Linked DNA regions of Homo sapiens. The protein of the gene in region 6 purifies or fractionates together with the protein of the main gene of each other region. This does not show direct contact. Each region holds a gene or a part of one and is shown on either strand. Other genes may lie near its edges. The genes, in order: CDIN1, UXS1, HAT1, UBN2, UBN1, CDAN1 and CABIN1.

Region 1 (4,077 bases), 6.1 Mb from region 6:
AGCATTCCAGACACAGCATCTAGAAAGAATGTGATGCAAATATGGTACCCATCTATATAGATGATGATGTTGATTATATAAGTTTTATATCATAGCAATTTATATTCATTTGAATTTTTAATGGATAGTTCTATATCCATTAAATATTTAGCTGACCTCAGTTTCAGTCTTCTAGTAATATGGAAAAATTTAACCTACCAACACATTTTCTCCTACATCAATAAACCTTTTATTTACCATGAATATATAGCAGTATTTAGCCAAGAGAAAACGTAGTTGTTTAAAGACTTTTCCTCCGTTTTGGCTACAGACTAGTACAGAAAGAATAGCACTTTTCTATGAAATTGATAATGCATTAGGGAAATTTAGGAATGGCTGGTACCATATTATAGCTTCTAAACAACCAAGGTGCCATTTTTTCCAGATAGGTAATACTTAGATAACATACACTTGCATCTGGTGACAATTGATGTGATGGTAATACTTTATGAGCTGATATTTATTTAATCAGGGGAAACTATAAAAATTGATGAGAAATATATAGCATTGGTACATTACAGGGTGCAGCAACTCTCTTAGACAAGAGCATTGTATTTTTATTATCTTTTTGGGGGGCTAAGGGCTGTATGTGGTCATCATTGATTTTATAAATGTCTTCATACTACTTTTCCAGTTTCAAGTCTAAAATTGAACATTTTAGCAATTCACACTTCGTTAGTGATAATAAGATCAGTCATTCTGTTCTCTCCACACAAATATTTTCAAGTGAGATTTGAAGCACTATGCATTTTATTTACATGCTAAATTCTGACATGAAGCATGATGGCCCTATTTCAGAGAAAGATGGACACATGATTAATATGAAAATTAGGGAGATGCAAGTACCTGAACTAATAAGGTAGTCCTTATTCAGGCTGGACTACCTTCAGTAATTTCACCATTTTTCATGTGTCAGCTCTGATGTGGGTTACTAGGAATAAGCAGCTTCGTGGAAAGCATTTCTTTCTACTTGGGGAATTTAAGGGCATCCAAGTACATACGTATTTGAAAAAACTGTTCATACAAATGAAGCCAGCCTTTTTGTCTAGTTACTAAATCAAGATAAAATTTTGGTATGAATACGGGACTTGAAAACCTGTCAGGAAAAATTCATGGTGATAATATATGAGGAATGTTTGCTGTCTTCCACCTAAGATAAAAAGACTCGTTTTAGGGAAGCATTATTGTTCTTAAAAATGTGTGTTCCTATTTTTTGGTGAAATTAAGTAAATGGTTAATAAAAGATTTAAGAACCCCAAAGAAGACAATATCTTTACAAAATAGTAGATACATTTTTTATTAATTAAAATGACTGTCGGACTGAATATCCTTTGTTTTCTGACTGGTTCTTTATTTTAAAAAGTTACCACCCTGGGATCTGTATTAATTAAATTGGTAAGTAGTGTTTCAGATAAGGACGGTGATCTTATGTTGCAGATATTATATTGTTGTAATTTATTATTAACATCTCTGCAATGTAGTTGTCTTTTATCAAATAAAATATTTTAAATGTAAGGAATTTATACCAAAATTTCAGTTGTCTTTAAAGATAAAATCAGTAAAATCCTTATTTGGATTTGTCATATAAGGACATTTGACTCTGTTTTTGAAAACTGTCACTAAATAACAAAAAGGGCTTATTATTTGAAATTGCATTCAGAACAGTATAAATATAGACAGTTGCATAGAAAGAAGCATGGCTTGAATAAAAAATTATATTGGCCTACCAACAGAAAAAATTGAGGAGAGATGAAAAAAGCCTATTTCACTGTTTTAGACGAATGCTTTTTCTAAGTTGTTCCATCCTTTTTGCTCCAATGTTATATTCAATAAATTTGACCCATTTATTCTTTTCAACAGCCCAAACCATACTTGTTATAATTTTATTATAATGGAAGCCACCAAGGGTGGGAAAGATTTTAATGAATGATGCTTGCTATGGTTGATTAAAATTGACTTATTCTTCAGTGTTGACAAAATACTGGAGTATCCACTGCTCGCACAACTTGATAGTTTTAATTTTCTACTTCTGTTTTATAAAGGTGGACTATGCGCCCTCATTAATGGCTCGGCTTATACTGGAGAGGTTTCTACAGGAACACGAGGAAACTCCACGTGAGTTACCCTTTTTTCCTAATGGTACTCTTTTACTCCCTTCCCCAATTTAAAAATAATTTACACAGCATTTCAAGTCACTTAATGAGAGCCAGATTCCAAAACAGCTATCATGAACAGTTAATGACAATTAAATGCAATATAAAAGACCACCCACAACTTAAATACTCTTCAGAATAATGCTCTCTTCTTTGTCTAAATTCCACACTCAACCTCTCCATTGAGCTAAATAGACAATGTGTATCAAACTAAAAAATTGATTCATCTTCGTATATAGAATAAGATACATCATTTGAAAAACCATTGTCAGGAACTGGCTCTAAAAGAAACATTCATCCTTTTTATTTTAATTCAGCAAGACCGGAGAAATACTACTTCCAAATGCAAAGGTGAATTCCACTGGTCTTCCTACAAGAAAATAAAAAAGAAAAAAAGAAAAGAATAGAGCTACAGAAGGAGGTTCAAGCCTAAATTAATTTGCCACTGAAAAAATACATTTTGTTATTTTCTCTGTGTCAACTGCATGATTAAAACCGGCTGTTAAGTGAGCTCTGGGGATGTGCTCGTAAAAGATTTATGAGTAATATTCAATGTGATATTCAAAGTGAGTCATGAATATCAGGATAATTGCTCTCAGTGCTGGCTCTTTTACTAGGCAGGAGTTTGTCAACTGCCCCATAAATATTTGCCTAGTCTCATGTAAAAAAGACAATTTCATCTTCTGCATTTTTATTACCTAGTATAATGTTTACCTTTGGAGCTCAGCTGTGGTAGAATAGGTAAAAAGCTTTGGAATATGCTTTATGCACATAATCTTCCCTCTTTGAAAGTAGAAGATAATACCTGCTAAAACATCATTCAGTAGTACATGTTGGATTTTTATTTTTTTATATTTTGTCAGGGATTTTTTCCCTTTGATTTTCTTTGAATCTGCAGTTACCAGTGACTGGTGGCCCAGTTACCTTGTGAAGGTTTCATTTGAATGAATTAAGTACTTCCCCTAAAAATTCAATATCATTTCAATAGATGTAGCCTCCAAAGTAACCTGCAGTGATGCTTCATGAGCAAATCACATGATGTCAGAATGGTATGGTTTCGATTTAATCAAGAAAGAGATTAAAGTGGATGTGTGTTATTTTCAACTTCGCAGCAGCACCGCCATTTGTCAAAGTCAACCTTCTGATTGCTTTGGACCTACTGCTATCCAGGTCTTGTCAAAATAGTAGTCAGCATAGTCTGAAGCAGGTAGACTGGCCTATATAGAGCAGTATCAAACACAGTAAAACAGAATTCATTGACTTGTGAATTATGAAGTTAATAGGTTGATCATAAATTTTGTAGCCATTAATTTATCTTTATAACACTGGCACATCTTCAGTACATTTTTCTTTTTATTTTGTACCATTTTATACAGCAGAGTTAAATAGTACTGAATATAATTTTGATGTGTACTGTATATCAGAATCCTATAATTCCAATGCTAGGATTAAATGTCTTGCATGAATACACTGGAGAAGGACATGAGCATATTTAGAAACATACCAAGGAAAGGGTATTTCAAGAATGTGGCTGCTTGGAAAGGAGGCGAATGTAAATATTGTATGCTTGAATTACACTATGATTATGTATAATCAAATAACAGTATTTTGAAGCTTTTTCTTTTATAATTGGTTGGGTTAATGGTTGTTTCACTGTGAGTTGTTACAGAGTCAGGTTTTGTTTTTTTTTTTTTTTCCTGAGTAAAATCATGACAGATATTTGATGTTATTTTTAATCATCATACTAGGCTATTGTGAAGGCACCATTTTAACTCCCTATTTGCCAGTAGGCTGACTGCCAGTCAAAAATGCTGTATTAAAATATTTCTCTGGACAGAAAATGGTTTCAAAAATCTTTTATGATTATATGACAAACCATAATTGA
Region 2 (4,077 bases), on a different chromosome or scaffold from region 6:
TAATTTATAACAAATTTATTGGCTCATGGTTCTGGAGGCTGGGGAGTCCAAGATCAAGGGGTTGTGACCTGGTGAGGGTCTTCTTGCTATGTCATCACGTAGTGGATGGGTAAAGAGAGAGCAAGAGAGAGACCAAAGGGACTGAACTCGTGCTTCTATGTGGAACACACTTCCACGATAACACACTCACTCCTCTGATAATGGCATTAATCCATTTACTTCACCTCATGGCCTAATCACCCCACCTTTTAACACTGTTGCACTGGGGATTAAATTACCAAAATGTGCTTTTGGTGGACACGTTAAAAGCACAGCAGCACTGTTACAGGAATGCTGCAAAATCTTGCCATGAATTTTATTATGTGCACATGGAATGATCTTCCTGTCGATGCTGAGTATTATAGAATTTATTTTGCTTTACACATCACCACAGCAAACAGACTTAGTTTTTTTTTTCCCCTCATCTGCCATCTCATAGGTTAAGCACATTTCTGAGGCATTTGGCATGTGAGTCTGGTATATTGTTGCTATAACTTAAAGCCTTTTCAGTAAATTGGTAAGCCTTAGGACAGCTTCAACAGAAAGAGGAGACTTGCTTTGAAATACATTTTTTGATTTTTTGCTAATTTGCTAAGCATCATGAGTTTGACTGCTGACCTTGAACTAGACCACTTTAGCTGCCTATTGGCACCCACAAGAGCGAGCAAGAAAGCACACTGAGACAAACCCCTATACTGGAAAGCCATGCAAAGCCGTGTAAGTTCTAATCCATCTCAGTGTAAGAGGTCTTACTTCTTTTCTCCTGTTCTCTTTTGGGTATTAGCTCCTTGTTATTCAAAGAATATCCTTGGGTTTGGTGATTAGTGTTCCTGATAGAGCTTTGTAAGTGCTAAGCTTTCACCAAATTTGTTTCTATTTGAAACACTTGCCTAATGGGCTAACATTGATTAGGATAAAAAATTGCATAACCATCCAGCTATATTATATAAATCTTAAGTATTTTAGGTAGAAGGAAATTACTTCAGAAAAAAAAATTCCAGTGCATTTTAGTCAAGCTAAGGTGCTTCCAACAATTTTACGTCAGTACTAAGACTAGTGAGATGTTGGAGATGATCATGTGTAATTTAATACGCTGCATCTCTGATATCTCAGAACTGTCTGCCAGGTATTTTGGGTGCAGAGATAATGTTAGAGTGCCACTGAACATTTTGTTTTCAGAAATATTTGCATATAGAGAAACAGTTATGTTAAAAGGGGTTACATTTCTTTTTAAAAGTTGCAAGTTTTTAAATGTAAAAATCATGGAAAACTTGGAAAAAATGCAATAACGTGAAGATAAAATGAAATCTCATCCCGTGAGTTAAGCTCTAGTGGTGAGTCAACTTTGAATTTCAATTATTTTTCTGGAAAATCGTTTTTCATAGTCATTGTTCAGGTATAGCAGTAGAATGTGGGAGCTCTTAAGATGAAACACGAACCAGACAAATTGACAGGCAGTAGAGAGCGTGTAATTAGAAAGACTGTAGCTTTAGTGTGTCCCAGCTAGTGATCTCTGAGGATTTTAGTCAAAGACGTAACTTCTCTGGGTGTCAGTTTCTTATCTTGAAGGCAAAGGGGATTTGGAAAATGGTGCTGTTGGTAAAGCCAAATGAAAGCTATCGAGCATGAGGATGCCTGGTCTCACCCATCCTGTCTTAACCATTTGATTTGCATTTCATCAGAGCATATGTAATATCTATGTGGTGGTTAAGGGATGGTTATTCTTGAGGTTGGCCTTGTTAACTGAAAAACCAAACTCTAAAATATTTTAGAGGTGTATTATGATCCAGTATGAGTAACTGCAGCCCCAGGAAACACAAAACCAAGAAGCCTTGAGTAAGTGTGCCCGAGGCAGGCGGATTAGTTTAGTTTTATACATTTTAGAGAGGCAGAAGTTACAAGGAGGTATAAATCAATATATAGGGCTTTTACATTGGTTTGGCCCAAAAAGACAGGCTATTTTGAAGTGGGGGCTCACAGGTATAGGCGGGTTAAGAGATTCTGTATTTTATTTTATTTATTTTGAGACAGGGTCTCTCTCTGTCACACAGGCTGGAGTGCAGTGGCACAATTGCCACTCACTGCAGCCTTGACCTCCCTGGCTTTAGAGATTTTTTACTTTGTAATTGGTTAAAGGAGTAAATCTTTGTGTAAAACTTTGGAGTCAGCAGAAAGGAATCTAAGTTATGACAAGGAAGTCTGTTCACCAATACACTGGGTCAGAATGACTTGGAGGGATGTGACTTAGCTCCTGTCTGGCACGACCCTAGGTCCTGTTTATGATCTCTGTTTTAATATTAACGTTGGTCAGTTGTGTCTAAATTCCAAAAGAGAAAGTATAGTGAGGCATGTCCAATCTCCTTTCACATCACTGCTGGGAACTCAGCTTTTCAGGTTTCTCTGGGGTTCCGTTTGGCCAAGAGGGGGCCCACTCAGTTGGGGGACTTAGGATATTTATTTATTTATGAGACAGAGTCTCGCTCTGTCACCCAGGCTGGAGTGCAGTGGTGTGATCTCAACTCACTGTAACCTCCACCTCCTAGGTTCAAGTGATTCTTGTGCTTCAGCCACCATAGTAGCTGGGATTACAGGCGTGTAGCTAATTTTTGTATTTTTAGTAGAGACGGGGTTTCACCATGCTGCGCAGGCTAGTCTTGAACGCCTGGCGTCAAATGATCCAGCCACCTTGGCTTCCCAAAGTGTTGGGTACAGGCATGAGCCACTGCACCCAACCCAAATTTCATTTTTAGTTTATAGCCTCCCCTTACTTCTCCTCTGCCATTTTTGATCTTTTTCATCCAGATGGCTTCTTTTTTTTTTTTTTTTTTTTTTTTGAGATGGAGTCTTCTCTGTCACCCAGGCTGGAGTGCAGTGGTACGATCCACTGCAACTTCCGCCTCCTGGGTTCAAGTGAGTCTTCTGCCTTAGCCTCCCAACTAGCTGGGATTACAGGAGTGTGCCACCACGCCCAGCTAATTTTTTGTATTTTTAGTAGAGACAGGGTTTCACCATGTTGGCCCGACTGGTCTTGAACTCCTGATCTCAAGTGATCCACCTGTCTCGGCCTCCCAAAGTGCTGGGATTACAGGCATGAGCTACCACTCCACTCAAATCCAGGTGGCTTTACTCTCTCACCGTGGTGAATACTTCATCGTGTGTGAGATTTCATTTATTTTAAACAGGAGTTTCATGGAGAATTACATGTTTTAAAACCATAGACCTAGGAGTTTGTATACCTTTTATTTTAGGTAGAAAGGATTGCTGTCTTCCTATTAATACTTTCCGTTTGAAACAGAAGGGTGAAATGAATGAGAATTTTGGTGAAGAGAAGGCAGAGTGGAGAACAGGATACAGCAGGCTAGAGAATTGAGTTGTGCATGGCACGTCTGTTTTCTGAGCCTATTCTTTTCACTCCCACCGCCTATAACCTTCCCCCAGATGAAATTCCCTTTATCCTCCTCCAGTTACACCATTTAATTTGAATAAAATACCTGTGTTCAACTTAAAAGTATTTTTCAAGCGCAGTTGACTTTTCACCTTTGCAGGGGTCTAGGTTTTGTTATTACTGAGTTACCGTCAAGACCCCTCACAGCTGCCTCATCGTGCTCTGTGGCTGGGAGTGTATACCACACTGGGTTCACATCACCATTCAGAAATTAACCACACAGTGGACTTAGGCGTTTAGGGCTTTAGTCTACAAACAGCATGTATTGCTTATTAATTTGTTCTCATAAACAATTTAAAAGATATTTGTTTTTCCTGCAGTTTTTGAATCTAACTTAAATATTAAGTTTTTTTTTCTTGGTAGTTCACCAAATCTCTGCATTTTGCTAATCGTTTTTTCTATAAAGTAATTTTTAAAGTTCTCAGCAGTAATATTAAAGCCACGTGAGCTATGTCCAGCATCCCATTTGTTATAAAACAAGAACCTTTGACTAATGGGAAATTCTCAGTCAGCAAAGACATTTTGAAATTTGTAACTATGATTTTTCTGTATTCTTCCAAGACTGGTAGTTTGAAATTTTAGGCTGCTTAGGA
Region 3 (4,077 bases), on a different chromosome or scaffold from region 6:
AAGGAAAGTTTTTAAAAGTTAAAATTATACATGCTATGAAAGTCTTAAAGTGATTTTTAAACTGATAGATTATAAATCCCTTTTTAAAAGTAGTTTTTCTTGGCTTTTTAAAAACCTTAACTAACATACTATACTGTTTTACTCATCACTACTTTGGATTTTAATTGCTACACAACACATCTATTACAGCTATCCCTCATTATGACAGTTTCCTTGATAGCTGTTGAAATTGTACTGATACTATAAAATATGCTTACGATGGCCTCTTCATGTTAGCAATTTCAAGGAAAAATATTTATCAAATAGTACTTTAAAAATAAGCAAAAACTGTCCTATGAAATGCAGTTTATTTGATCTAGAGTGTGAATGAGTTGCAAGGACTGATGTACATATTAGAAATAAACTGTTGGGCAAAATGCTGAAGAGCTATATTTTCAATAATAGGTCTTTTTTATACCTATAAACAAATTATATATAAATGTTGGTGGTACCAGAGCATTGAAAATAAAACTTGTTTGTGATAAACGTCATCACTGGTTCTCTATCCTGAAATGTAACTGAATCATAATAAAGTGCTATTCATCTGCAGGTGCATTGCTTCTACTTAGTTAAAAGATGGTTGAAAGGATAGGAATTAGTAGCATGTTGTATTAGCCTTTTGTAGTGTATTTTGTCCTAAGCATCTTAATTTCCCTGTTTTGAATGCTAAGTAGCAAGGGTCTTGGTTTAGAACTAATACCCATCATGCATGTAAACGGTATGAAAGAGCTGCTTAGTAAGTTAACACAAAGTGTTCTTGTGTCAGTCCTTGTGGAAATAGATACAATACAAACATTACAGCTGAACTCACGGCAAACTCCATTAAGTAAAAACCTGGCCTCATTGTTCAGGAAAAAGTTTGAATAGAATACAAGCTCATTTTGTTGAATGTAATGTCAGGCTTTTAGGGACTGTATTGAGGGATAAGGTTTTGTTAAGTTGAGACCAATTCATTAAGTTTTATTGCCTGGTGAGAAGCAGCAATACTTTATTGTAAGACTTCATCAAATATTCATGGTTAAAGAGAAGTAGTAAATGTATTCAATCAAGTGGTCTTTTGGGATTTTGAAAAGGATTATGAAGTCTGCTCAGCTGATAACATTGATAGAGGTTGTTTAACAAGGGTAATTTTAATCTCCGAGTTTAGTTTTGTTGTCCAGTCTTGTCTCTTTTTTACTGTCACAAATCCAGGTCTGTAAGAATTGTGTCACATTCTAAGGATAAAAGAATGATATATCCATTCATATAATTTATGTTATTTCCTAAATATGTATATTTTTAAGTTATCATCTTAGTTTGAGTTTGGCATATGAGGGAATTGTGACCCATCTAGTTGTGAGATTGCTATTCATTTGGTCAGACTCTAGTCTCATCTCACCACTGCTGGTGATCTTTTCATGTCTTGGATAATATGATTTCTTTGACACATATAAAATAATAAGCAACCTTTTGCCTTGGCCAGTTCAGACTGTCATGAAGGGGTATAGTCAGCTGTTTCTGCATAATGGAAATGTCCATAGCATTGCCCTTATTATTGTACTTGGTATCAGGTCACCTGCCTTCTCTTATTTACTTTTATATTATGCTCATCTCAGTTTTGTGTGATGCAGTTTGTGCACAGGAAGCTCATCCTTTTCCAATTCGCTGTGTGTTTACTTCTTTAGTTTTCAACCAAAGTTTTGTAATTTGTGTTGGTTTTGTCAGTTTTAAAGAAATAAACCATATTCAACTTAAAGTCGAATTTGTTATTAATTTTTTATATCCTTTATTCTTTAGGCAGATGATGTTGAGGGCAAAATTAGACAAATCATTCCACCTGGATTTTGCACAAACACGAATGATTTCCTTTCTTTACTGGAAAAGGAAGTTGATTTCAAGCCATTCGGAACCTTACTTCATACCTACTCAGTTCTCAGTCCAACAGGAGGAGAAAACTTTACCTTTCAGATATATAAGGTAAAGATAAATCTAAATATTTATTGAGTAAAGTTCTATTTGCCTGAAACCTGTATGTAGTTTTGTTGTCAGTGATTTATTCTAACTGCAGTAAACAAGTTTTAATCAGCATTATAAACCAAGATCTATTTTGTGTGTATGTCTGTATCTATGTTCACATCTTAATCTGAGACTTCTAAACATTTTCCCACAGGATAATTTTGTGTTCTGCGGACTTTCACTTACCTTTGTGATGAGTTTCACCTGACTTTTCCTGGCTTTTTCCCTAGGCTGACATGACATGTAGAGGCTTTCGAGAATATCATGAAAGGCTTCAGACCTTTTTGATGTGGTTTATTGAAACTGCTAGCTTTATTGACGTGGATGATGAAAGATGGCACTACTTTCTAGTGTAAGTACAGTTCTAAAGCAACAGTAGACCTTATTACCTCCACAAAGCCAGCATTTTAATTGTGGCAGCCCAATTATTGGGACAGTATAATGATATTTTTCCCAGGAAAGAAAAACTATTGTTTATGAGGCTTGAGTTTTCCTTCATTATGCTTTGGGAGACCTTGAGAATAGAGCTGAATTAAATGCTGTTGTCCGTTAGGGCCCTGAATGTAGGCTTAAACAGTAAAATGAGCTTTGCCTGTGTTTTCTTTTACTTGCCACCTATTCATCTTTATAATAGGCAAGTGCACTGAAGTGATGTAAAGAGGTCTGATTTATCCAAGTTGCTGCACACCAATTAAGTGAATTGTACATTCAGAACATAGCAGGTGTACCCATTGGGCCCTCACAGAGTAGCTTGCTGACACTGAAAATTCAGTCAGAGAATGGAAAAGAAAATGGACACTGCATGGGAGCGCGACTGTAATTGACCTGCTTGGCTTTCTGTTTTATCTGCAGATTTGAGAAGTATAATAAGGATGGAGCTACGCTCTTTGCGACCGTAGGCTACATGACAGTCTATAATTACTATGTGTACCCAGACAAAACCCGGCCACGTGTAAGGTAATTGGCAGTATAACACGTGCCTTGTCTTTTATTTCAGAAGAAGGAACTGCTGAAGTTTCCAATACTTGTTATAATAGTGTTGATTTGTTTAAAAAAAAAATCACTATTATTCATGGGCTATGTACTGATTTATTTCATTGTTCCCTTTGAAACAGTGTAGAAGATTAAACTAATTTTGAGTATCTTGATAATTTTTGGGTATCTCAAAGGTGGATTGAAAAAAAGATCACACAAACTTTAAAGTGTTTGTAATACTATAGTGATCTGCAGGTTTTAAACTGGTCATGTTATGATATTTTAATTTTAAAATAATTTCTTTACTGTAGTCAGATGCTGATTTTGACTCCATTTCAAGGTCAAGGCCATGGTGCTCAACTTCTTGAAACAGTTCATAGATACTACACTGAATTTCCTACAGTTCTTGATATTACAGGTATGTAAAATTTGATTTGTTACTGAAAGAGCCTTTCTAAAAATGTCTTCTTACTGATTGATTTTATTTTTGTCAGAAATAACTATTTTAAACAGCAACATTTTCCTAGGGTGTTTAAGCCATCTAAAGATGGCTTAAGTTTATGTTTTAGAGCATAAGCCTTTGTGGGGATTGGATTACATCCCTAACTGTGAAGTGCATAATGGAACAAATTGAAGATAATGAGCTGAATATATATGGGGAAGTCTTGGTCAGGCGTAAATACGTTGAAAGTATGGTATAACTTATTTGTTCACTTTATTTGGCAAACAGTTGCATTATTTAGAGGCAGCCTGCACTTTAATTTACATGTAGGGGCAGAATATTATAAACTTTACTGAGAAAAAAAGTCAAGGTAAATACTTCTTGAATAGAATACACATTTCCTAAAGTGTGTGTTTTGTATTCCTAAAATGCATGCCTTCACAACAGTAGTAGATAAGGTGAAATGTAGGCCTATTTGTTTTGGAAATGTCTTTCAGTATGGATTAGCCATAGAAGTAGTAGTATGAATAGAATGCTTAGGAGAAGGAAAGACGACTTACTCGACTTACTCGACTTGACTCTTCAAAAGGAGAAGGCATTATTAGATGGAGTTTCAGATAATATGT
Region 4 (4,077 bases), on a different chromosome or scaffold from region 6:
AAGAGTCTTAACTGAGCCCCTGCTAGGCACAAGGTATTGTGTTAGGTGCTTTCATTTAGATTAGTGAATTTATATCCAATTCTAGGACAGTATGATCTTTCAGAACGGCTGGGGTAATGGAGTGAGAAAAAAATCACTAAGAGAAATCTTCCAACAATTATAGGTTATCCTATGTCCTAGAAGGCTAAGATAACAAGTCTATACCCATCAAATTGAAGCATCCTACTCCTGAGTATAGAGTATAGGTGGCCTCATAAAAGGCATATATTACCTACAGACTATCTAAAAACTGAATTGGAAACCAAGATGTTTTGCCTAAACATTTTGGAGCCTTAACTGGGAATAAAGAGAGGCATGGGAGCCTCTTTTACCTGTATCCTGCCTCCTTTCTAACCATCAAGACGAATCTGGAGCCTATACGGTTGTAGAAATGTCAAAACTTGGACTTAGCTATTTAAAAAGATTTATGTACAACAACCAATTTAGTATAATCTAGGTAAAAATAGGTACTTAATAGTCATATTGACCTTTTCCCAAAAAACCATTTAGTAATTGATGCTGAATATGAACTGTCACATTACCTGAGCATAAGAACAACATAACAGGAAACAGAACATGGCCATAAAAATAGGACACAATGGAGGGGGGAACCCCATAAATTCAATGCAGGGTGCTCTTTTTACAATTTTATACTCCCTGTAATTTCTGATATCACTGATCTTCAACTGCTGCAACACCTGCCCCAAACACCAATAAAGATCATTGTAGTTTAAGAGAGAGATTTTGTGATAGCCTAGAGCTCTAGGCATATAACGCCCAGCAGGACAATGTATCTTCTCTCAGGTCACTTTTGGCCTGATGATTTTCTTAAAAGATTCCAAATAATTATTTAAAAAAAAAAATATATATATATATATATATATATATTTAGGCTGGGTACAGTGGCTCATATCTGTAAACTCAGCACTTTGGGAGGCTGAGGCAGGTGGATTGCTTAGGCTCATGAGTTTAAGACCAGCCTAGGCAACACAACAAGACCCTGTCTCTACCAAATAAATATATATATACATATACACACACACACAATACTCATAGATATAACACTTGGGCATGCTTTTTGGTTAATATACATACAATCTCTAATTAGAATGGAAATAAGACAGTAAGTCAGCAAAATAAAAATCCAGAGAAGAAATATAGCCCATTAATTTAGACTATAACAAGAGTAATATTTTATCACTGTAAACAAAATAACAAGGCTTAAATATATCTAAGTCAATTGAAACTCAATTTCACGCATCAAACAACTTCTTCAGAACGCTGATCTTTCTATGCCAGATACTATCCTAGGGTTGACTAAGAAGACTTAATGCTAACTTTAAGGTAGTGCGTCATATACTGAATCACTTTACTTATAGGATTATATATAGGAATTTTTCCATTTGCAAAGGGCAATTCTAAAATCCTTGATTTTGTAACCCACAGCAAAATAGACACTCTAGGCTGGGCGCAGTGGCTCACGCCTGTAATCCCAACATTTTGGGAGGCCAAGGCGGTGGATTACCTAAGATCAGGAGTTCGAGACCAGCCTGACCAACATGGTGAAACCCTATCTCTACTAAATACAAAAAATTAGCTGGGCATGGTGGTGCATGCCTGCAGTCCCAGCTACTTGGGAGGTTGAGGCAGGAGAACTGCTGGAACCTGGGAAGTGGAGGTTGCAGTGAGCCGAGATAGCGCCATTGCACTCCAGCCTGGGCAACAAGAGTGAAACTCTGCCTCAAAAAAAAAAAAAAAAAAAAAAAGACACTCTAATATAGTGATGGAGGGAGTAGAACTGGTAATTTAGTAATATATACTAAAATTATAAATGCATAAATCTTCCGACCTGAATCGTCTGATTCTAGGAATCTCTCCTAGAGATAAACTTGAAATTGTGTAAAATGCCATTTTACAGACTAATTTACTGCAGCACTATTAATAAGGGCAAATTTTTGAAAGCAACCTAAATCATTTGGGGACTGGTTACAGTGTGATAGTTCCATGCAATGAAACAGCATGCAGCCTTAAAAAAAAGGGAGAGAAAGCACTTTGTCCTGATATGACCCCCCCAAATATACTAAGATACAGTAAATAAAAAGCAAAGAGCTTAAGTGTGTACAATTCTATAATATGTATAAAAAGGGGGTGGGAAAGGAATAGATGTGTATGTATAGAGATGTATCTCTAGTACCACAGGAGTGTTACTTGCCTAGGAAGTGGGATTCCATGGGTGGGCAATACAATAAAAGGAAGATTTTTAATTTTTGAATTTTGAGCCACATAAGTGTACTAGTTGGTTAAAACATTAAGTGTAACCAATGTATAACTTGTATAAAAAACACAGTATTTTAGGATTTATACATGCTAGGATTTTAGGATTTATACATCCTATAGGATTTTACAATTTATACATCATGATACAATATAGTCTCAAAAGATTACACTGTAATTAAATACTACAATGCTATTCCTTCTATTTAAACACCCACCAGTCTATCCCTAAATTTATTATTATATAGTCACAGAATAGAGAACAATAGGGTCTCGGAAAAATCTGAACCTCTCAATTTATAGATAGGAAAACTGTACCCTTGGCCAGGCCCAATGGCTCACGCCTGTAATCCCAGCTCTTTGGGAGGCCAAGGTGGACAGATCAGTTGAGGTCAGGAGTTCGAGACCAGCCGGGCCAACATGGTGAAACCATCTCTACTAAAAATACAAAAATTAGCCAGGCATGGTGGTGCATGCCTGTAATCCCAGCTACTCAGGTGGCTGAGGCAGAAGAATTGCTTGAACCCAGGAGGTGGAGGTTACAGTGAGCCAAGATCACACCACTGCACTCCAGCCTGAGTGACAGAGACTCTGTCTTAGAAAAAAAGAGAGAAAAAGAAAACTGTGGCCCAAAGCTAAAAAACCTCACCAAAAGGACACAATTAGCAGATGGCAAAGTATGGCCTAGGACCTGATTCCAATTCCAATCTATTCTCATCTACTTCTTCTACCTTCAAATGGTTTCTTAATTACCACAAGGAGCCAGCACATATGGGTCAAGATCCCTGTTGTATCTTGAGGGTACAAGGCCCTCAATGACAAGGCCAATGTGAGCTGATATCCTTTCTCCTGTGGGATACTTTTCAATGCTCACAGAGGAATCAGAGGGGTAAGGTGTTGCTTCTCAACTGGGTTATGTTTTAGTAAAGTGCCAAGAGTACTCAAAGCCATAGTGTAAATGTGGGGTGAGGAGTGGGGCTTTCTACAAATTTAGTAATACTAGAAAATTTGAGAAAAATGTTAAGCAACTTAATCAGGTAATTAAAAATTGTTTTTGTATTCAAACAAACACCACTATATTGTGGCACTGAATATAAAATGTACATGAATATTTAGCATAAACCGGACACTTTCAAAGAAGTCTCATGCTGGTTCTGAGTCTGACGCAATGAGCTTAGAAGTACACACATTCACTCTCAAACTCTTAGGAGGCAGGAAGGTTTCAGAACTACTATACCAAAGGAATTAAAATAGCATTCTCGATGGTGGCGGAAAGGGAACAGAGTTAGAGCTACACAGACCTGGACCTGTAGCCTACTCTTGCCACTGTGTGACACTGTATCAGCTACTTAATCTTGAACTCAGAGCCTCAGTTTCCTCATCTGTAAAATATGGTCAATATTACTTAGCTTGTGGTTTTGTTACAAAGATTGGAGATAATATATGTAAAGCAAACCGCCCAGACTCTAGAAAGACTATAATAAATGATGGCTACTTGGCAGGATGGATCACTTGAGGTCAGGAGTTCACGACCAGCCTGGCCAACATGGTGAAACCCCGTCTCTACCAAAAATACAAAAAATTAGCTGGGTGTGGTGTTGCCCCTGTAGTCACAGCTACTTGGGAGGCTGAGGCATGAGAAAGGCTTGAACCTGGGAGGCGGAGGTTGCAGTGAGCCAACACTGCACCACGGCACTCCAACCTGGGCACCAGAGCGAGACCCTGTTTCCAAAATAAATAAATAAAAATAAAAATGAATGATGG
Region 5 (4,077 bases), on a different chromosome or scaffold from region 6:
ATTTTCTTCAGGCATTTAAAAACATTCTAAGAAAGAGTCCATTGACTTCCAAAATAGTCAAGGGCTCAAAAACGTGAAAATCCCACTGAATGTGGTGCAAGTTCTTGAGAGCCGTTCTGCCATACTGTTTAGAAAGGTCTGAATTTGCACTTCTCTCGGTGCTACCAAAGTTAAACTCAGGCTTCCAAGGCTTATTTCCATTTTATAAGCTTATTCTTTTCTCATCAAGCAAATTTTCCACAGATAAGCCTTAAGCTTTGTGAGCAAGGAATCCAAAAAAAAAAATTTTTTTTTTTTTTTTTTGAGATAAGAGTCTCACTCTGTCACTCAGGCTGCAGTGCAGTGGCACAATCATGACTCACTGTAGCCTCAACCTCCCCAGGCTCGGGTGATCCTCCTGCCTCAGCCTCCTGAATAGCTGGGACTATAGGCATACAACACTATGCCTAGCTAAATTTTTTTTTTTTAAGTTTTTTGTATAGATAGGGTTTCATCATGTTGCCCAGGCTGGTCTCAAGCTCCTGGGCTCAAATGATCTGCCCATCTCAGCCTCCCAAAGTGCTGGGATTACAGGCGAGAGCCACCACACCCAGCCAGGAGCCAGGAATCCTAATTTTAATAAGACTCCTGTACGAAGTATGTTTAAGACTTCAAGGTAGACAGAAAACACTAAAGACTGTATGCCTGTTTCAAACAAACTTTCTTATCTCACCCTCCCATCTCTGCCTACTGAAATACCACCTGCAAAGGATCAGTTAAATGATTTGTGGTGTACACATACAATGGGATATTATAGAGCATACATCTAACGATCATACCTCAAATGGGGAGTCTTTCAAACATGCTTATCTGGATCTTCTAATTTTTCTACAATGATCGCATATAACTTGAGTGGTTATGTAACTGTAAGAAATCCCACCAACCTTGAGCAGCACTGGATTCTATGTATACTACTGAACGCCTTGCCAACAGCAGTCTTCCAATAACTACCATTTCCTGACTGTATGACGGAAGGTCCAGCTCTGTCCCAACACTAATCAGGAAATAAGCTCTCTTCTTTCTAAGACCTCCAGGGCCTGTGTCGTACCAGACTTAAACAATGACCATATTGTAATTTCTGTTACCTGCGGTGGTACCATTCTCTCAAAACATCTATAGGATGTTTGTTTTGAGGCTGGTACAGTGTTTTCTCTAACTTTCTATAGTCCTCTGAGTCTAGCACAATGCCTTCATACTATTAAGGACTATACACTAAAAGAACTGCTGCACAAATGTGCCTGATTTTATTGTATTTTTAACACTGCAGAGTAGACCCACGACGATTTAGGAGTTCTGAACCCGAAGTCCAGGACTGAATCCTCTGAATTGGATCAAAATTCTCTGTGTATCCTCCATGCATTTTTCTGCAATGGTGAAGGGCATCTGTAGTCCCCAAAAAGGTGACATCAGAGCACTGGAGTTCTAATTTCAGTTGACCTGCTGATTTGGTTTGAACCCATGAATAAACACATTAACCAACTCCTGCTCCTGTCTCTTCCTCTAAAGGAAGAAGATACCATTTTCCTGAAACAGGAATTATAAAGGGATTTGAAATTACTTTCTGTCATTCTGCCCAGTGGTGCTCATGCAACAGGCTGACCCTTGGTACAGACTCACAGGCCTCCATTCTGGCAATCAGGCAATCAGATCTCAATCAAGGAAACACTTTTTCTTTTTTGGTTTGGTGTTTTTTGGTAGGGGGAGATGGAGTCGCCATCACCCAGGCTGGAGTACAGTGGCATGATCTCAGCTCACTGCAATCTCTGCCTCCTGGGTTCAAGCAATTATCCTGCCTCAGCCTACCGAGTAGCTGGGATTACATGCATGCACTACCACACCCGGCTAATTTTTGTATTTTTAGTAGAGATGGGTTTTTGCCATGTTGATCAGGCTGGTATCAAACTCCTGACATCAAGTGATCCGCCTGCCTCGGCCACCCAAAGTGTGGGGATTACAGGCATGAGTCACTGCGCCAGGCCTTCCAGCCTTTTTTTTTTTTTTTTTTTTTTGACACAGGGTCTTGCTTTCACCCAGTGCGGTGGTGTGATCACGGCTCACTGCAACCTTGACCTCCCAGGCTCAAGCAATCCTCCCACCTCAGCTTTCTGAGTAGCTGGAACTTCAGGCATGCACCATCATGCCCAGCTAATTTCTGTATTATTTTGCACAGATGGAGTTTCACTATGTTGCCCAGGCTAGTCTTGAACTCCTGTGGTCAAGTGATCCTCATGTCTCAGACTCCCAAAGTGCTGGGATTACAGGTGTGAGCCACTATGCCAGGCCAAGAAAACACATTTTTTTAATCTCAGGAAAAAAAGATTAATCCTTCTAACCAAAAATACCCTCCGAACAGCACACCTGTGAATAAGACCGACTGATCACTTGGCACTGAGGCATACTGCTAGAAAATTCACAACATGATTTCATTCTCGTTCCACACTCAGACAACTGTGAACCAATTACCAGCCTCATCCCCATTTCACTAAGAGACATGCTAGAGACCACAATGCTGCGAGTGTGGGGCCCACTTACCTTTTCCTCAGAGCCTAGCACAGTGCAAAGGCAGACACAGGTGCTTAAAAATGCTTTTCACGGGCCAGGCACGGTGGCTCACGCCTGTAATCCCAGCACTTTGGGAGGCAGAGACGGGCGGATCACGAGGTCAGGAGATCGAGACCATCCTGGCTAACACGGTGGAACCCTGTCTCTACTAAAAATACAAAAAATTAACCAGACGTGGTGGCGGGCGCCTGTAGTCCCAGCTACTCGAGAGGCTGAGACAGGAAAACGGCATGAACCGAGGAGGCGGAGCTTGCAGTGAGCCAAGATTGCACCACTGCATGCCAGCCTGGGCGACAGAGCGAGACTCTGTCTCAAAAAAAAAAACAGCTTTTCACCTAGGCGGTACTCAAATACCATACAATTCCATCTACATAAAATACAAAAACACGGCCAGGTGCGGTGACTCACGCCTATAATCCTAACACTTTGGGAGGCGGAGGTGGGTGGATCACTTGAGGTCAGGAGTTGGAGACCAGCATGGCCTACATGGTTAAAATGGTAAAACCCCATCTCTACTAAAAATACAAAAAAAAAAAAAAAAAATTAGCCAGGCGTGGTGGCTGGCACCCGTAATCCTAGCTACTCGGGAGGCTGAGGCAGGAGAAACATTTGAACCTGGGAGGCGGAAGTTGCAGTGAGCCAAGATTGCATCACCGCACTCCAGCCTGGGTGACAGAGTGAGACTTGGTCTCAAAAAACAACAACAACAACAAAAAAGAGAGGCCAGGTGCTGTGGCTCATGCCTGTAATCCCAGCACTTTGAGAGGCCAAGGTGGGTGGATCACAAGGTCAGGAGATCGAGACCACCCTGACTAACACATTGAAACGCTGTCTCTACTAAAAATACAAAAAATTTGCCGGGCGTGGTGGCGGACGCCTGCACTCCCAGCTACTCGGGAGGCTGAGGCAGGAGAATGGCGTGAACCCGGGAGGCAGAGGTTGCACTGAGACAAGATGGTGCCACTGCACTCCAGCCTGGGCGACAGAGTAAGACTCTGCCTCAAAAACAAAAAAACCCCACAAATCTAAGCAGATCTAAGCTGTTAGAAATCAGGGCAGTGGTTGCCCATAAGTATTGAGGTAGTCTTCTGGCAGGGCAGAAGGAGGGTTTCTGGGGTCCTGATAAATATATTTTGTGACCTACGTGCAGGTTACATGGGGGTACTGAGTTCATGAAAATCCATCAAGTTGTGGCTAGGTGCAGTGGCTCATGTTTGTAATCCCAGCACTTTGGGAAGCCAAGGCAGGCAGATCACTTGAGGCCAGGAGTTTGAGACCAGCCTGGCCAACACAGTGAAACGCCATCTCTACTAAAAACACAGAAATTAGCTGGGTGTGGTGGCGTGCACCTGTAGTCAGTCCCAGGTACTCGGGAGGTTGAGGCAGGAGAATCACTTGAACTCGGGAGGCGGAGGTTACAGTGAGCCGAGATCGCCCCATTGCATTCCAGCCTGGACGACAGGGCGAGACTCGGTC
Region 6 (4,077 bases):
GTCCTGCTGTCTTGGTCCTTGCTCTGTAAAGTCTCATATCCTCCCCTTGACTTTCATTATCTTTGATCCTTGGCCCATGACCTTGCAGTACATATCTGGGCTTGCATACCTGCGCCATGCCTTAGAGATCCTCTGTGGTGTGCAGGTGCTTGCTTCCTACTTGCAGTCTGTGTTCTGGTCTCAGTCATAGGTGCTCTTGTCCCTGCAGGGTTCTTTCCAACCTGGACAAAGGGACCTTGAAGCTGCTGGCTGAGAATGAGCGGCTGCTGTGCTTCTCACCAGCTCTGCAAGGCCGCCTTCGAGCTGCCTATGAGGGCAGTGTTGCCAAGGTAGTAACCCCAGCTTAGTTGCCCACTAGCCTGGACCTAACCCTTCCTAGCTTTCATAAATTCAGGCAACCCTGCTGACGACACTTCAGTGTAATGTGAGCTAACTCTGGGCAAGAATAAGAGGGAGAAGTTTTCTCAGCATGACCCTGCAGTTCCTAACGTTCCTGCTGTATTTTAGGTCTCTCTGGTGATGCCTCCCTCTACTCAAGCTGTCTCCTTTCAGCCAGAGACTGACAATCGTGCCAACTTCTCCAGTGACCGAGCCTTTCATACTTTTAAGAAACAGAGGTGATAAGAAAAGGGACTTTTTGGGGAGGGAATGAGATGACATTTTTCTGGAATAGGCAGCTGTTTGGTTTCATAGAAATTAGGAGTTTGGCACCAACAGGTGGTGGGTTAGTCCCCCCAGGTCCTTCCTGCCGGCCATCATAGGGACCACCTGGCTTCATTCTCATGTGCATCTGTGAACCCCGGCGCTTAGCAAGCCATCTCACAGGTGTATGGTTTTAGTCTCAGGGTTCTCAAGCAAGAGTGTGCCAGGATGAACTGTCACTGCCCACAGAAGTACATGAAGCCTGTAATGTGCTGCTGGTCTGTAGCACTACTGTCATCATATAGAGAACTCTGGAGAAATTTAAAAATGGGGCTGCTGGCCGGGTGTGGTGGCTCACGCCTGTAATCCTAGCACTTCAGGAGGCCGAGGGGCGGATCACCTGAGGTCAGGAGTTTGAGACCAGCCGGGCCAACATGGTGAAACTCCGTCTCTACTAAAAATACAAAAATTAGCCAGGCGTGGTGGTGGGCACTTGTAATCCCAGCTACTCTGGAGGCTGAGGCAGGAGAATCGCTTGAACCCAGGCGGGGCGGAGGTTGCAGTGAGCTGAGATCGCGTCATTGCAATCCAGCCTGAGTGACAAGAGCAAGACTCCATCTCCAAAAAAAAAAAAGGTGGTGGGTGGGCTACGGATAGTTCTTCCAGGGGCAGGAAGGCACTGGTGGGAGTGAGTGCCTCGGCTGATCAGGCGTTCTTATGCGTCAGGGATGTGTTTTATGAGGTGCTGCGAGAGTGGGAAGATCACCATGAGGAGCCTGGCTGGGATTTTGAGAAGGGCTTGGGCAGCAGAATCAGGTGGGTGCTCAGACCTTGTCTTTCTTGTTCCTGGCAATGAGTAGCTCAGTGCTTGCTCGGTGGCAGGAGGGAGGAGGAGGGAAGGTTTTCCCCGCTCCTACCAGCCATTAGCTGTTTTCTACTATCCTCCGAAATCTCTTTAGTTATTGATAACTCTGCCTCTATTCGAAAGGGATGTGTCTCTCCAGCTCCTTCCACTCACAGGTGTCTTATCCTTGTTCTGTAGTGGCAATTGCTTAGAAAGTCCAAAGCTCTTAACTCAGGTTGCTTGAGGTTTTTTTGGCCCAAGTCACTGCTTAGACACATCCAGCCTCCATCTTCTCCATCCTCTAATTTGGGCAAGTCTGGTCACTGTGCAGGTAGATGCCTGGGCTCAGAACGCGAACCTCAGTCCAGTCATCTCCCTTCACATTGCTCATGAAACCCGCCGCCTGTTAGTGTGGCTGAAGACGGTCGGGGGGTGTGGTCGCATGATTTCTTGTTTGGTTAAGTGCACCTCTAGCCTCGGAGGACCTTGGTGCTGAGGGAGTGTCCCTTGCCTTCAGTGTCCCTTTGCAGGCTGGCTCTGGCTGAGGTCTGCTCAAGTCCCTGGTAAACGGCTGGGAAGTCCAGGGGTTGGCTGCTTCTCTCAGATCTTTCTCCCTCTCCCTCCTTTCCACACCCTTCATTCCTGCCTTCTATTCCTCAGGGCCATGATGGGTCAGCTCTCCGCAGCCTGCAGCCACAGCCACTTTGTTCGGCTTTTCCAAAAACAACTACTCCAGGTAACAGCCCCAGCAAGAGATTAATCCACATTAAACAGCAGGCATCACAGGCAGCCACTTAACGGCTGCACTTTGGGATAGGGCAGACAGCCTGGCAGGTCCTGGGCTGGAATTTGAACAAGAGTTCTACTCCTCGCGGAGTGGCTGAAACTCCAGTGGCCACAGAAAAGCCAGGGCACTCTCTTTGACACATCCCGGGCCCTGCAGCTCCTCTAGCCTGCTGCTGCCTTCCCTGATTTGTGCTGTGGTAAAGAGCCCAGGCTTAGTAAGTAGTCAAGCTTTGTTTCAGATCCTAGCTCTAGTGACCCTAGGCACATGCTTAACCTTGGAATTTAAGTTTCTTCACCTGTGAAACAATACTGTAATTCACATCTCAGAAAATCTATCTAAAGCACTTGACACAGTTGGCATTCCTTAAATGTTCATTACTTTCTCCTTATTTTTTGTTCAGTCCTTCCCTCCCACTTGCTGATTTTTTTAATTTCTCTCCTTCCTCTTCCACCCTAGATGTGTCAGAGCCCTGGTGGTGCTGGGGGCACCGTCTTGGGCGAGGCCCCAGATGTGTTGAGTATGCTGGGAGCTGACAAGCTGGGGCGGTTGTGGCGCCTACAGGAACGGCTTATGGCTCCTCAGAGCAGTGGGGGGCCCTGCCCACCCCCCACCTTCCCAGGCTGTCAAGGCTTCTTTAGGGACTTCATCCTTAGTGCCAGCAGGTAGGCTCCCCTGTGTCTTGCAAGGAATGGGGCAGAGGCCAGGAAAGGTTTGGCTTCCCAAAAGGGTAAATAGTTCTCCAGTCTCCTTTGCCTGGAGATAGGCTCCTTCCAGCTCCAACTTGCTGGCTTCATTGCACTTCTCATTCTGTCACCCACGTGGGTGATTTCATTGCTCCTGGGCCTCCCTGTCTGTCCTGCTGCTCCCTTCCCTCTGGAGTGCCCCTTCTCGATTCTGGCTTTTCCTGTACCTCTTCCAGTGCTTATGCCCCACCCACCCCTTCTTCTCAGCTTCCAGTTTAACCAGCATCTCATGGACAGTCTGAGCTTGAAGATCCAGGAGCTCAATGGTCTTGCCCTGCCCCAGCATGAGCCCAATGATGAAGACGGGGAGTCAGACGTAGACTGGCAGGTCCGAAAACAGAACAAGGGAAATAATGGGGTCTGACCCAGGAGGGAAGGGAGTATGTTCAAGAAAAACTTTATAACAGATCGGGAATTGTTCTGGAAGCCTCATGCTTGGACCTTTTACTTCCCTTGATTCCATGCAGGGTGAGCGGAAGCAATTTGCTGTGGTGCTTCTTAGCCTGAGACTTTTGGCTAAATTCCTGGGCTTTGTGGCTTTCCTGCCATACCGGGGGCCTGAACCTCCCCCGACCGGTGAGCTTCAGGACTCCATTCTGGCCCTCAGGAGCCAGGTGAATGGGCGGGGGATTCTGGTGAGGAGGGAGCAGGGAGGACCGGCCAGGCACTGAAGCTGACTGGTTTCCTTGGCTATTCTGGAAACCAGGCAGGTTAAAGGGCATCTCCCAGCCCTTCCTAGGGACCTGCCCCCTGACTGAGCTCTGGCCCTCCCAGGTCCCTCCGGTCCTGGATGTGCGGACTCTGCTGCAGCGAGGGCTGCAGGCCCGCCGGGCGGTGCTCACCGTGCCCTGGCTGGTGGAGTTTCTCTCCTTTGCTGACCATGTTGTTCCCTTGCTGGAATATTACCGGGACATCTTCACTCTCCTGCTGCGCCTGCACCGGTGAGTGGAACAAGGCTGAGGCTTGATGAAAGGATTCGGGACTCGGGACATTGGTCAAGCCTGCTATTAATAAAGAGGGTCGAGCAGTCTGCACTGTGCGTGTGGGGCCCTGGCCATAAC
Region 7 (4,077 bases), on a different chromosome or scaffold from region 6:
CCCCCTGTAAATGGCAGCTGTAACAGATGGCTCTGTTATCTGTCCTGCCCTTTCTGGCGGAGAGCTCCCTGTTTACCACTGAGGCCCAGGCACCCCTGTCGCTCACCCCACTGTTACTGGCCTTTGTCTGGGGAACCACAGCTATCTTCTGAACATCTGTTTTCCCTACAACCTGACAGCACCCCGAGAGCCCTGAGTTGGGGGAAGCAGGAGGAAAGGAAAGGCTGGGTAGTCCAGAGTCTCAACGTGGAACCAGGATCAGTGGGGACAGGCTGTGTCTGCCCTAGGGTGCCTGGGGGTGGGAAGTGTTGTTTAGGTTCTAGACACTGGGACAGAGAGGCCCCCAAGGAGAATGAAGAGCTGGTCCAGGCTCCCAGCCAGTGGTCCTCACAGCTGGGCCAGAGCAGTGGAGAGGCTTCCTGGGGTGTGTGTGCCCCTGACCCACACAGCATGCCAGGCTGTGTCCAGGGTGGCTGCACTCACTTGCCCTGGTCTGGGGTCCGCTGAAGCATGGAGGACACCTTCAGCAGGGTGCTGTGGTCCCGCAGCTGGGCCAGCACCTTGAGCAGCAGCACGATGGAGCGGTTCATGTGCCAGGCAAAGCTGCCCGGCCGGTCAATCTCGTCCACGGGGATCCGCCAGATGCCCTGTGGGATGGATGGCACAGGTGTGTGAGGGGGGTGGTTGTGGCAGGAGCCTCGGGGACACCCTGTCTGGTATCCCCTGGAAACTGCCACAGTGCCAAAGGGGACACTGCCCAGCCAGGGGCTTCTTGGACCCCTCTCACTGTCCCAAGGAGACAGAAGTGTATCCCCACCCCCTTCCTTCTCATGAGTGGCAGCAAATGACAGACAGACCCACTGCTCTGCAGCCTCCTCTTTTGTATGGCTGCATCTCATATGTTTGCTGGACCTGTCCCCTATGGGATGCACTCAGGTGGGGCCTGATCAAACGTGAGGACAGACAGTGAGAGGCCCAGTGTGTACACCTCCCTGCACAGGTGCTTACCCAGCCACCAGACCATTTGTTAGAGGTGGAACTGCTGAGTCAAAGCAGGCTGCAGGGAAGCTCTGGCTAGGCTCTGCCCTCACCCACTCTCTCCAGCAGTGCCCAGAGAATCATCTGCAGCTCCTGGGATGCCTGGGGTCCCCCTCCCTCTTCCCACTTCTTGCCATCCTACCCCACTCCTCTTTGAAGGCTTAACCAGGGCAAAGTTGACTTTGGGGAGCACCCCCCATTATCTCCCTTGGTCCTTGCTTTACCTGCTGCAGCACTGGGCACCCCCTACCTATCACTAGCTCCAGGGCCTGGTTCCCTGCAGTGTCCTAGTGACCAGCATGGCATCTGACACCTACTCGGGGTCCAGGCAGGGTGTGGGGAAAGCAGGGAGTGAGTGATGAGGAAACAGGCATTAAGGAGGCCCATCTCTGGGGTGGGACCTCAGGGGCCTGGAATAAGTGAACTGGCTCCTAGATGGGTCCCTGCAGCCAACACGCTGAAGAAACTGCTGCCCAGAATGGACCAAGGTTATGAGTGACATTGCTTTCTCCTTGGCATGGGGCCTGGCCCACATCATGCTGCAGTATAGGATTCTGGGGACTTGGGCCCCCAGCTACAGGGACCACTGCAGGATGTCTAGGTGGTACCCCTCTCAGGGCCCTGTCCCTGTGGGTCCTTGCTGATTATCCACAGTATCTGTACACAGGTGTGGGCCCACCCTGCTCTAGCAGCCCTGGGAGGAAAGCCAGGGCACCTCCAGCCCTGAGCTGTTAAGGCCTGAGAGGAGTTTAAAACTCGCAGCCTTGAGACCCTGTGGCCTCTACACTGGCTCCTGTTGTGACATGGAGGGTCCACCTGCAGGCTGGGGGACTATGTGGAGGCCAGCAGCCACCTTCTACTTCCTGGCAGTGCCTGAAAAGGACAAAACCAGGGTACTGAGGCTATCCACATCCAGGGCAGCAAACATCAATGCTGCATCTTCCTACCATGCAGATGTGGATCCTGAAGCAGCTTATGAAAAGACACCTGCTTTCCAACAGACAGGGTCTATCTACAGTAGGCACCAGAATGGGCAGACACTGTCTCCTGGGTCTCCATCCGCTGTGCTGCAGCAGTACGTCCCGCTGAAGACCCTCCCATCCCTGCACCTCCCAGGGCACATAGACACCAACAGACACACCCGTGAGGACGGGTCTAGTTTGCATCACACACACCAGCACAGTTTGGATCCCTATCTCCTTTCCGTTTCCTTTTGTAACATAACACTGCTGATTTCAGAAAGGATGGAAGACCAAACAAATCAGGCAGTGAGTCCATGGAAAATCAGAAGGGAACCATAGACACCGCCGCCCGCTTGGCCACCCCCATGCTATTGTGACTCTCAAAACTTCCCCAGCCAGCCCTGAGAGGCTTGAAAGGCAGCATTTTACATTTGCATGTGCTCTGGTTTCATTCTGGCATCTTGCTTGGCCTTTTTCTGGTAACAGTGTGCTGAAGGGCACGTTTCCCGGGCAGGGTCAGGCCAGCTAGTGTGCCCTTGTTCATCTCTTTACTGTATCTTCATTCACATGCCCCAGTATGGGGGCTCCTATGTTTATTTACCTTGCACTGGGCACTATTCCCAGAAGCCCCTTCTGTTGTGGGCTTGTCCTTTCCCTGCCCCCAGGATTGGCCCCCTTGCCTGCTCGGCCAGGCCTAAGACCCACCACCAGCCATGGGAATTCAGCCAGCAGATGGGCCCCAGGATCCCAGTCAGGCTTCCCCTCCTAATGAGAGCCTTTAGGAATAACCCCTCTTCTCTGTGGCCTGGGGCGGTGTGCAGATGGACATACCTCCCGAACGGTGAGGGGACTTCCTATGGCCATGAGGCTGGCCTCCAGAGAAAGCTGGTCTGAAGAGTGAAGCCACCAGGCAGAGTCACGAGCCAGCAGGGTGGTAGCAAGCCAACTGGCTTTCTGCCTACACCAGGTGGAGCTGGGCTTCTGTGTTTGCAGCAAGAGACCCATGAGAAGGATGATACTGGCAGCCCCAGGATGACCTGGACACAGCGGTTCCCCACAGAGGGGCAGTAGCCACAGCAGCCCTCTCCCTCCACTGTCCCTCTAACACCGGGCCTGTGGAGGGCTATGAAGCTCCTAGAGAACCAAGGTGCTGAGGAGGGTCTCCTGGAGTGGGACAGGTACAAGGGACAGCCCCTGCTTCACCTGGTTTTCCTCACCACGGCCCACACAGGAGGAAGGGGCATGGCCAGGTTCCAACTGCCACAGCAGAAGCCCCACTGCATTCAGCCCAGGGACTCACGTTCGGGCCTCAGGGAGGGTGTGGAGAATGTGCCAGGGGTGAGCTTGGATAAAGCTAAGTCAGGGCCAGAAAAGAAGGGCATAGGCAGCAGTGACCAAGAGGCCTGGCTGAGGGCAGGTGGAGGGAGCCAGCACCAGGCCAACACCCCCACGGCATCTGAGGGAAAGGCAGAGGCAGGATCATAGATGGGCAGGGGCCATAAGTAGCAGCTGAGAGAAGCAGGGTCGCCGCGAGGAGGGTCTCCTCTGGCCCTCTCCTAGTTCTCCCTCAGCCCTGGGTCCCGCTGCTCTGGCCGTACCCCTTGCCTCGCCTCTCCCAGTTCCACAGGCACACTTGCTGTCTTCAGATTTGCCCCACTTGATTCCTGGGCCCTGGTGTCACCAGGGCTGGGTTCCCTGATGGCCACAGTGGCTGGGATAATGCTTGCTTATAGAGTTGAGGGCAGCTGGGGGTGCACACCAATAGCCTCAGAGGACTTAAAGACACTGAGATTGTGCTTGAGGCTTCCCCTCCATGCCAAGCATCTCTTTCCAGGCATCTCAGTCAATCCCCCAACCCTTCAGAACGGCTCTAGGCTCCTCACTGGCAGATGAGGTCACAGAGAGAGATTTTAACAATCTGAATAATTTATGAAGCCCCAGACTCTAAGCTGAGTGCCTGATACAAGTTACCAAACCCTGCCTACAGCCTTAAGACTTTGGTGGTCTTCCCTCTGCTCTTGAGGAAACAGAGCCTCAAACACTGAGTCCCATGGTAGAGTGAGCCTAGGGGTCCACA

The links.
Region 1: the proteins of CDAN1 (region 6) and CDIN1 purify together in Homo sapiens (affinity purification with mass spectrometry, with the first as the bait; one large-scale study listed by BioGRID). This does not show direct contact.
Region 2: the proteins of CDAN1 (region 6) and UXS1 purify together in Homo sapiens (co-immunoprecipitation; one large-scale study listed by IntAct). This does not show direct contact.
Region 3: the proteins of CDAN1 (region 6) and HAT1 purify together in Homo sapiens (affinity purification with mass spectrometry, with the first as the bait; one large-scale study listed by BioGRID). This does not show direct contact.
Region 4: the proteins of CDAN1 (region 6) and UBN2 purify together in Homo sapiens (affinity purification with mass spectrometry, with the first as the bait; one large-scale study listed by BioGRID). This does not show direct contact.
Region 5: the proteins of CDAN1 (region 6) and UBN1 purify together in Homo sapiens (affinity purification with mass spectrometry, with the first as the bait; one large-scale study listed by BioGRID). This does not show direct contact.
Region 7: the proteins of CDAN1 (region 6) and CABIN1 purify together in Homo sapiens (affinity purification with mass spectrometry, with the first as the bait; one large-scale study listed by BioGRID). This does not show direct contact.

Annotation. Positions count from the first base shown.
Region 1 is NC_000015.10:36,655,752-36,659,828, forward strand, and holds part of CDIN1 (CDAN1-interacting nuclease 1), read left to right. Parts: intron 1-2,081; coding exon 2,082-2,154; intron 2,155-2,509; exon of another isoform or gene 2,510-2,543; intron 2,544-4,077. UniProt on the Homo sapiens protein: Plays a role in erythroid cell differentiation.
Region 2 is NC_000002.12:106,145,569-106,149,645, reverse strand, and holds part of UXS1 (UDP-glucuronic acid decarboxylase 1), read left to right. Parts: intron 1-4,077. UniProt on the Homo sapiens protein: Catalyzes the NAD-dependent decarboxylation of UDP-glucuronic acid to UDP-xylose. Necessary for the biosynthesis of the core tetrasaccharide in glycosaminoglycan biosynthesis.
Region 3 is NC_000002.12:171,963,523-171,967,599, forward strand, and holds part of HAT1 (histone acetyltransferase type B catalytic subunit), read left to right. Parts: intron 1-1,815; coding exon 1,816-1,995; intron 1,996-2,264; coding exon 2,265-2,386; intron 2,387-2,886; coding exon 2,887-2,991; intron 2,992-3,320; coding exon 3,321-3,427; intron 3,428-4,077. UniProt on the Homo sapiens protein: Histone acetyltransferase that plays a role in different biological processes including cell cycle progression, glucose metabolism, histone production or DNA damage repair. Coordinates histone production and acetylation via H4 promoter binding.
Region 4 is NC_000007.14:139,237,280-139,241,356, reverse strand, and holds part of UBN2 (ubinuclein-2), read right to left. Parts: intron 1-4,077.
Region 5 is NC_000016.10:4,853,578-4,857,654, reverse strand, and holds part of UBN1 (ubinuclein-1), read right to left. Parts: intron 1-4,077. UniProt on the Homo sapiens protein: Acts as a novel regulator of senescence. Involved in the formation of senescence-associated heterochromatin foci (SAHF), which represses expression of proliferation-promoting genes. Binds to proliferation-promoting genes.
Region 6 is NC_000015.10:42,730,478-42,734,554, reverse strand, and holds part of CDAN1 (codanin-1), read left to right. Parts: intron 1-208; coding exon 209-329; intron 330-507; coding exon 508-617; intron 618-1,368; coding exon 1,369-1,458; intron 1,459-2,146; coding exon 2,147-2,222; intron 2,223-2,729; coding exon 2,730-2,935; intron 2,936-3,223; coding exon 3,224-3,344; intron 3,345-3,483; coding exon 3,484-3,630; intron 3,631-3,790; coding exon 3,791-3,957; intron 3,958-4,077. UniProt on the Homo sapiens protein: May act as a negative regulator of ASF1 in chromatin assembly.
Region 7 is NC_000022.11:24,160,970-24,165,046, reverse strand, and holds part of CABIN1 (calcineurin-binding protein cabin-1), read right to left. Parts: intron 648-4,077; coding exon 484-647; intron 1-483. UniProt on the Homo sapiens protein: May be required for replication-independent chromatin assembly. May serve as a negative regulator of T-cell receptor (TCR) signaling via inhibition of calcineurin. Inhibition of activated calcineurin is dependent on both PKC and calcium signals.